Linked DNA regions of Homo sapiens. The gene in region 1 interacts genetically with each later gene. Each region holds a gene or a part of one and is shown on either strand. Other genes may lie near its edges. The genes, in order: SLC31A1 and LRP8.

What was found.
Region 2: changes in SLC31A1 (region 1) and LRP8 are lethal when combined (synthetic lethality), as found in Homo sapiens cells (one study listed by BioGRID).

Annotation. Positions count from the first base shown.
Region 1 is NC_000009.12:113,252,512-113,256,432, forward strand, and holds part of SLC31A1 (high affinity copper uptake protein 1), read left to right. Parts: intron 1-3,602; 5' UTR 3,603-3,637; coding exon 3,638-3,766; intron 3,767-3,921.
Region 2 is NC_000001.11:53,265,150-53,269,070, reverse strand, and holds part of LRP8 (low-density lipoprotein receptor-related protein 8 isoform 1 precursor), read left to right. Parts: exon of another isoform or gene 1-1,146; intron 1,147-1,913; exon of another isoform or gene 1,914-1,975; intron 1,976-2,423; coding exon 2,424-2,598; intron 2,599-3,057; exon of another isoform or gene 3,058-3,319; intron 3,320-3,921. UniProt on the Homo sapiens protein: Cell surface receptor for Reelin (RELN) and apolipoprotein E (apoE)-containing ligands. LRP8 participates in transmitting the extracellular Reelin signal to intracellular signaling processes, by binding to DAB1 on its cytoplasmic tail.

The DNA.
Region 1 (3,921 bases):
CTCCTGACCTCAGGTGATCTGCCCGCCTTGGCCTCCCAAAGTGCTGGGATTACAGGGTGAGCCACCGCACCCAGCCTAGTCTTGCTTTTTTAACAGTCCTCTACATGTTATCTTATATCTCAAAATGAAAATTATGACTGTTCAGTTTCCCTTTCTAGCTTTTAGCCTTAAAGCTCCTTGAGGAAAGACTCCATGTGATGTTCATTTCTTTATTTCCTTTGGTCTTAAGAAGGCACTCTTGCAAATATTCATTCCCTCCTCCTGACCAGGATTCATATTGATAATATGGAATGAAGTAAATCCTTTGTGGTTTTCTTATGCTATAATCATTTTTCAGACTCTCATTGGAAGAGAACAGTATTTGTGTCTTCTGCCTCTAGCTCTTTATGAGGATGTGTCAGTAGTCTTCCTGGCTAGCGAAAGTCTTTTCTTTTCTTTTTTTCTTTTTTTTTTTTTTTTTGAGACGGAGTCTTGCTCTGTAGCCCAAGCTGGAGTGCAGTGGCGCGGTCTCGCTTTACTGCAAGCTCCGCCTCCCGGGTTCACGCCATTCTCCTACCTCAGCCTCCAGAGTAGCTGGGACTACAGGCACCCGCCACCATGCCCGGCTAATTTTTTTGTGTTTTTAGTAGAGACGGGGTTTCACCCATGTTAGCCAGGATGGTCTTGATCTCCTAACCTCGTGATCCGCCTGCCTCGGCCTCCCAAAGTGCTCGGATTACAAGCGTGAGCCACCGCGCCTGGCCAAGTCTTTTCATTCTTATTGCATTTGTTTGGTTCAATATCATAATTTATGATCACTCAGATGCCAGTGATCTCTCCATCCTACCATAATTACCTCTTTATCTGAAAACAGCTGCCCACCTGCCATTTGCCCCATCACTGACACTTTGAGCATGGTCTTTATTTTATTGTGTATTGTATTTTTTAGTGTTTACTCTAAAAACATTGTAGACAAAGACTCTGTTTTATATCTTTTTATACCTCTGATGTAATCTCTTTATGGTAATGGTATCAATAATACCAGATTGTCGAGCTCTGTAATTTTTTTTTTTTTTTTTTTTGAAATGGAGTCTTGCTCTGCTGACCAGGCTGGAGTGCAGTGGCATGATCTCTGCTCACCACAACCTCCGCCTCCCAGGTTTGAGCAATTCTCTGCCTCAGCCTCCCGAGTAGCTGGGATTACAGGCGCGTGCCACCAAGCCCAGCTAATTTTTGTATTTTTAGTAAAGACGGGGTTTCACTGTTGAGCTCTATAATTATAAAATAATGTAGTGTCTGGCATGAAAGTGGATCTTTGATTATGCCTACCTGATGCTTTGCCTTATCCTTCACTAGAAATAAGAACCTATTTCTTAAGCCAGCTGTCATAGAACTATGGGGTAGGAGTTAACAAGGAGAAAATAAATAGATGGCTCCCTGAATCTATATAAATTTCCTACCCACAGTCTTTTTTTTTTTTTTTTTTTGAGATAGTCTCCTGTCACCTAGGCTGGAGTGCGGTAGTCCAACCTTGACTCACTGAAACCTCCACCTCCCAGGTTCAAGTGATTCTCATGCCTCAGCCACCCGAGTAACTGGGATTACAGGTGCATGCCACCACACCTGGCTAATTTTTTTGTTTTAGTAGAGATGGGGTTTCATCATGTTGGCCAGGCTGGTCTCGAACTCCTGGCCTCAAGTGATCTGCCTGCCTCAGCCTCCCAAAGTGCTGGGATAACAGGCATGAGCCACCGCGCCTGGCCAATTTATTCTTTACCTCTTGGTAATTGTGTCTTATTTCTCAGCTTATTTCCTTCACAGCATGAAATTATATTTATTGTTTCTCTCCCTATCAGGAACCTTGTCTTATTCATTGTTGAATTATTAGCACCTAGCTCAGAGTTTGGTATATAATAGGAGCTTGATAAATATTGAGTGAATGAATAATGAAAAGCATACTTGGTTTCATGAACATGAATACCTACTTGGAATTTTTAAAACCACTTTTTCTTCCACAGACTGGACTTGAGGGACACATAAAGAGAATCCACCAACACCTCCCCCTCCACACACACCAGCTTCCCATTCTCCCACTCCAACTCTAGCTATAGGAGTTATTGTTCCTGGGCCGGGCACGGTAGCTCAAGCCTATAATCCCAGTACTTTGGGAGGCCGAGTTGGACAGATCACTTGAGCTCAGGAGTTTGAGACCAGCATGGCCAACATGGTGAAACCCCATCTCTACTAAAAATTTAAAAATTAGCCAGGTGTGGTAGCATGCACCTGTAATCCCAGCTACTCGGCAAGCTGAGGCATGAGAGTCACTTGAATCCAGGAGGCAGAGGTTGCAGTGAGCCGAGATCACACCACTGCACTCCAGCCTGGGCAACCATGCAAAACTCTGTCTCAAAAATAAATAAATAAAAGGAATTATTGCTCCTTGGTTTATGTCCCAGATGGACTTTTGCAGCAATACAGTGATGTGGTAGTAAAGATACAAGGCTGAATTTGCAGTTGTCTAGACTTAATTTAATATAGAGTATCCAATTTATACCTTGTTTTTCATGTTCTTCACTCTAATGTCCTGGTAGGATTGAAATTGTATCTGAAGTCTGAGCACACTGCGTGCCTAGGGCCATAGTAGACCTTTCTTCAAATTTAAATTAGCTGAAGGCTGGTTGTCCTGTATGTGAAAATGTAATCCAAATATCCTGATTAGGCACAGGCCATCCCAATTAGGTGAATTATCTGAAGTCCTTGCTTTTTATCTGCTGACATTTATGATTAGAAAGCCTTAAAGCAGTTAAATTTCATTAATGGCATTCATTTGTATCTTATTACAGATTGCCTGTTTCCTGCAACCCAAAGAAGCTGCTTTCCTTCTCCTTATCTAATATTTAAGTTTGAACATATATTAAGCATACCTATTAAAGGAACTATACTGGTGGGGCACAGTGGCTTACACCTGTAATCCCAACACTTTGGGAGGCCAAGGCAAGAGGATTGCTTGAGCTCAGGAGTTCGAGACCTGCCTGGGCAACACGAGACCTCATCTGTACGATAAAACAAAAAATTAGCTGAGCGTGGTAGTGGTGCAGGCCTGTGATTCCACCTACTCAGGAGGCTGAGGTTGAGGCTGTGGTGAGTTGCACTCCAGCCTGGGTGATGGAGCAAGACCCTGTCTCAAAAAAAAAGGAACAATTCTGCAGAATAAGGAAGGGTTAGGCATCTGTAGCCCTACGTGTAAACCCTTTCTGCTACAGTCTCCAAAAGTGATCCCTATTAGCACGAGTTCTTTCTCTCTCCATCTGTAGATTATGAAAAATAATTCTGAGTAAAGATGCTAGGAGAGCATTCATTTATTAGATGCATTCCATATAGACAAAGTATTTACCAAGAAACAAGCCCAGGAGCAGGGAACCACCAGGTTGCCTGGTGAACCAGCCTAGATCAGAAATGGAGCAGGTCAAAACTCCTGTACTGATCAGTAGTGGGATCATGCCTGTGAATAGCCATTGCATTCCAGCCTGGGCAACATAGCAAGATTCCATCTCTAAAAATAAAAAAAAGAGATAAGATTTTTATATCCTTAAATTATTATATATAATTCTTTCTCTTAAAAGAATCTTCTGCTGACTCTCAACTTTTCCTGGAAAAAATGGATCATTCCCACCATATGGGGATGAGCTATATGGACTCCAACAGTACCATGCAACCTTCTCACCATCACCCAACCACTTCAGCCTCACACTCCCATGGTGGAGGAGACAGCAGCATGATGATGATGGTGAGTGCCATAGGAGGGGCAATGCAGGCCCTTTCCCACCCACTTGGGTAATAGAAATAATGGAATTTTAGTACTGGAAGCTTATTATCTTTAAAGGTCAGTTTACCAGTGAGGATAACTAAAGCAGACCCAAGCAAGTCAAGTCATTTGCTCCA
Region 2 (3,921 bases), on another chromosome or scaffold:
CTGGATTTCACTCTAACTGGGGGGAAACCATTGAGGGCTCTGAGTAGGGAAGGGACATGGTGTGACATTTTATTCTGACTGCAGTATTGAGAACAGACTGTAGAGGACAAGGGAGAAGGCAGGGAAACCACTTAAGAGGTCATTGCAATAATCCAGAAGCGAGGTGATGGTGGCTGAACCCTTATTCCCACATTATTACTGTGGGAATAATGAAAAGTGGACAGACTGCAGATATAGTGCAAAGGCCAGCCAACAGGATTTGCTTATGAATTGAATGTGGAATGTGGAAAAAAAAGTTACAGCAACTGAAAAAATAAGATTGCTACGTATGGGCTTGGGAAAGATGGTGAGGGAAGCAGGTTTGGAGGAATCTTAGGCTGTTTTGGACATGTTATGTTTAAGAAAACTGGTTAGGTATCCAAGTAGAGATATTGAGAAGGCAGCTGGATATATGAGTCTGGAGTTCATATGCAAGTTAAATACAATATACAACAGATAAATTATAACAATACAGCAGCCATAATACTGACATGTAGCCCATAAACCCAAAAACTGTAACACCCAAACTGTACAATATGTAACTCATACATTAGTATATCACATATAACGTGTAACCTGTTCTTGCCCCCATATAGAACACATGTAATACATGACACAGATTATGTACATGCACTGGAGACAACATGCAACTACCCATGCATATACAAAATCCACACACATGAATATTTCAAGTGCAGTTACATAAAATCTCAAATCATAAACACAGGGGGTTCCTGTCACAGTCACAGCTGTCATTTAAGATCACTCCAACATGCCCCTTTAACCTGGCTCCTGCCTTCAGGGAGGTGAAGTGTCATTACTGTCATTTTGGGGTGAGGGAAATCACAGCTTGTCAGTGGCAGAGCTGGCCTGTAACTCAGCTTTCATCCTTGCCCCTTCCTGCACCTTGAGCCCATTCTCCATGCTATTTGTACCACACTTCTGTCTCACTCCCACCCTGCTTTGAATTAGTCTCCATCACTACACACAGGTCACACACCCAGCCCCAGGCCCTACCTGACTCTGTGCTGGTCCCATCCTCCAGGGAGCACATTAGCTTGGCAAAGATGCACAGTGACAGGGACTGGTGGCTGGCAGAAGTGTCAGCTGGAAAACAAGAGAAGGAGGCACAGGGAGCTTGAGGGGCAGGTGTTACTAGGAGCAGCCCCTCAGACAGTGTTGGTGCCTGAGAGTGGCCCAATACATCTAGAAACAGCCTGTGGGAGCTGGTGCTAGGCCCTCAGAGGCCCATGGGACAGTGTCCTCCCATATGGAGTAGCCAGGAAAGTCTAGGTCACTTATTTATCATCTTAAAATCTAACCCTAAATCTAAGAAAAATACAGGTTTTGTGTATACATGAGCAGTTTATGTTGTCTCTACTGCATATATATAATCTGTGTTGTATATCATATATGTCCCATCTCTGCCATTGGCTCAGGATAGAGAACAAACTCACCCAGCTCATAGGACCTTTTGTGATCTGGCCCCTGCCAATCTCTGAAGCTCATCTCTTGCTATGTCCCCAATACTTTCTATCCTGAATCATCTTTTTTTTTTTCCTTTGAGACAGAGTCTCTGTCACTCAGGCTGGAGTGCAGTGGCACAATCATGGCTCACTGCAGCCTTAACCTCCCGGGCTCAAATGATTCTCCCACTTCAGCCTCCTGAGTAGCTGGGACTACAGGCATGTGCCACCATGCCCAGCTAATTTTTTTTTTATTTTTATTTTTAGAGATGGGATTTTGCCATATTACCCAGGCTAGTCTCAAACTCCTGGCCTCAAGCGATGTGCCAGCCTCAGCCTCCTAAAGTGCTGGGATTACAGGTGTGAGCCACTGTGCCTGGCCCCTAGTTATCTTTCTAAGACACTTACTTGCTCAGGTAGTTCCTTCTTGAACCACAGCAGTAGGGCCCAAGCAGAGAAGATGATAGTTGCTGGAAAGAAATACATAGTAGGTGGAAGGGACAACCTGAGCAAAGGCTCTGAGGCAGGAAGCCCATCCATGGCTAGGTAATGGTATCTGGTAGGTGGAATCAAGCTATGTTGGAGAGGCGAGTAATGAGGCTGGACAGGGAACTTGGGGTCACACTGTGGAAGGCTTTCAGTGCAGGCCTAAGGAGAAAATGGGGAGCCATAAAAGATTTTGGAGAAGTTTGTATCTAATAAAAAGAATAAGAATCTTCCTGCTATGCGTGGTGCTCTGCATCTTCTGCTTTCTGTACTCATTATTTCATCTGCTCCTGCAACCTGTAAAGTAGGAATTGTCACTACTATTTTAAGGAAAATGGATGTGTCAGCCAGCAAGCCAGTGGCAGAGTCTTGGTCTCCAGGCTCCCTGCCTCTTGCACTGACTCTTTCTCTTTCAACCTCCCTGCATGACAGCTGGCAAGAGCCCATCCCTAATCTTCACCAACCGGCACGAGGTGCGGAGGATCGACCTGGTGAAGCGGAACTATTCACGCCTCATCCCCATGCTCAAGAATGTCGTGGCACTAGATGTGGAAGTTGCCACCAATCGCATCTACTGGTGTGACCTCTCCTACCGTAAGATCTATAGGTGAGCGGCCATATCCTCTGCAGCAAGGCATGAAGAGTGGGGGTGAGGGGTGGTGACAGGTGAGGAGGGGAGGAGTGGTGTCTGCCTCTAGAGCTCCTCAGGACAGAGTTGGGACTTGGGAAGAGATGCAGGATCACAGTGGATATGGAACTTCTGGGACTTTACTGGGGCTGGAGTAGTCTGAGGGCTCCCTTGGGTTAGCAGCTTTGAGCCCCAAACACCTGGGATTTGTCTGACCTCTGGAGGCCTAATATGGAAGCACAAGACACAGGAACTGTTTGGCCAGGGCAGAAAGGAAGAAATCCTGGCTTTGGGGAGGACTTTCCAAGCAGCTCACATCCCTGTGTGTTGGAACCTGGGGACTTAGACCTGGTCCCTGCCCAGAGGATCCCACTCACAACACAGTGACATCCATTTGTGATGATCATGAGAAAGTACAGAGGAGGCCTCCGAACCCACCTGGGCATCTGATCTGGCATGCCTTCCTGGATGGCATCACCCCAAGGCCAGCTTTTCACTGTCTTTGACGCCACAGTCAGTGGACCTGGTGCTTGGGAAGCTCTTCACACACTGGAGGAGGTTCTCTCCTAGGACTTTCTCAGATGCCAGCACCTGCCCCACTGCATGTCTGGGCCCTCTTCAGGCAGTCATGTCCTTTCTTTGTCCTGAGATCCACTTGGCAGGAATGCCGATGACCAGGCGCTGGGTAGACACTGAGTCACTGATGAAAGAATGATGGGACAGATGGGTGGAAGAGTGGATGGAAGCAAATATAGCAAGTGCTACTCACTGACAACTAGATTCCTGCCTCCCTGCAACATACAGACACTCCGTTCACACACACCCAAAAACATAACTAGAACAATGCCTGTCCAAGAGATGTAACTGAAAGAGGCAGGATTTGGTGACAGACTAGATATGGGGCTGATGGAAGAAATTTACTCCTTCATAGTGAATTTTGGGAGTTTCAGGTTTTTGGCTTGGGAGGTTTCATGAATGGTGGTGCTGTTCTCTGATGTGTGAAGCAGTAGAGGAGGATCAGGGCTCAGGGTTTGGGCCGTCTGGTTGGCCGAGGGGAAGGGAATGGGGATGAACAGTTTTGGACATATTGAGTTCAAGGTGTCCATGGGACATCCAAGGGGAGCTAGTTAGCTTTGCAGTCTGGATCGTAAGAGAGCTGTTGGGATTGGAGACTTAGTTATTGATGGCAGTGGACACTAAGGAACTAATCACCCAGAGAGAGGGCAAGAAGAAGAAAACCTCTGGGGAAACAGCATTTGCTATTTTGCTAATGTTGCCTCCTGAGTGTCTACTGTATTCTTA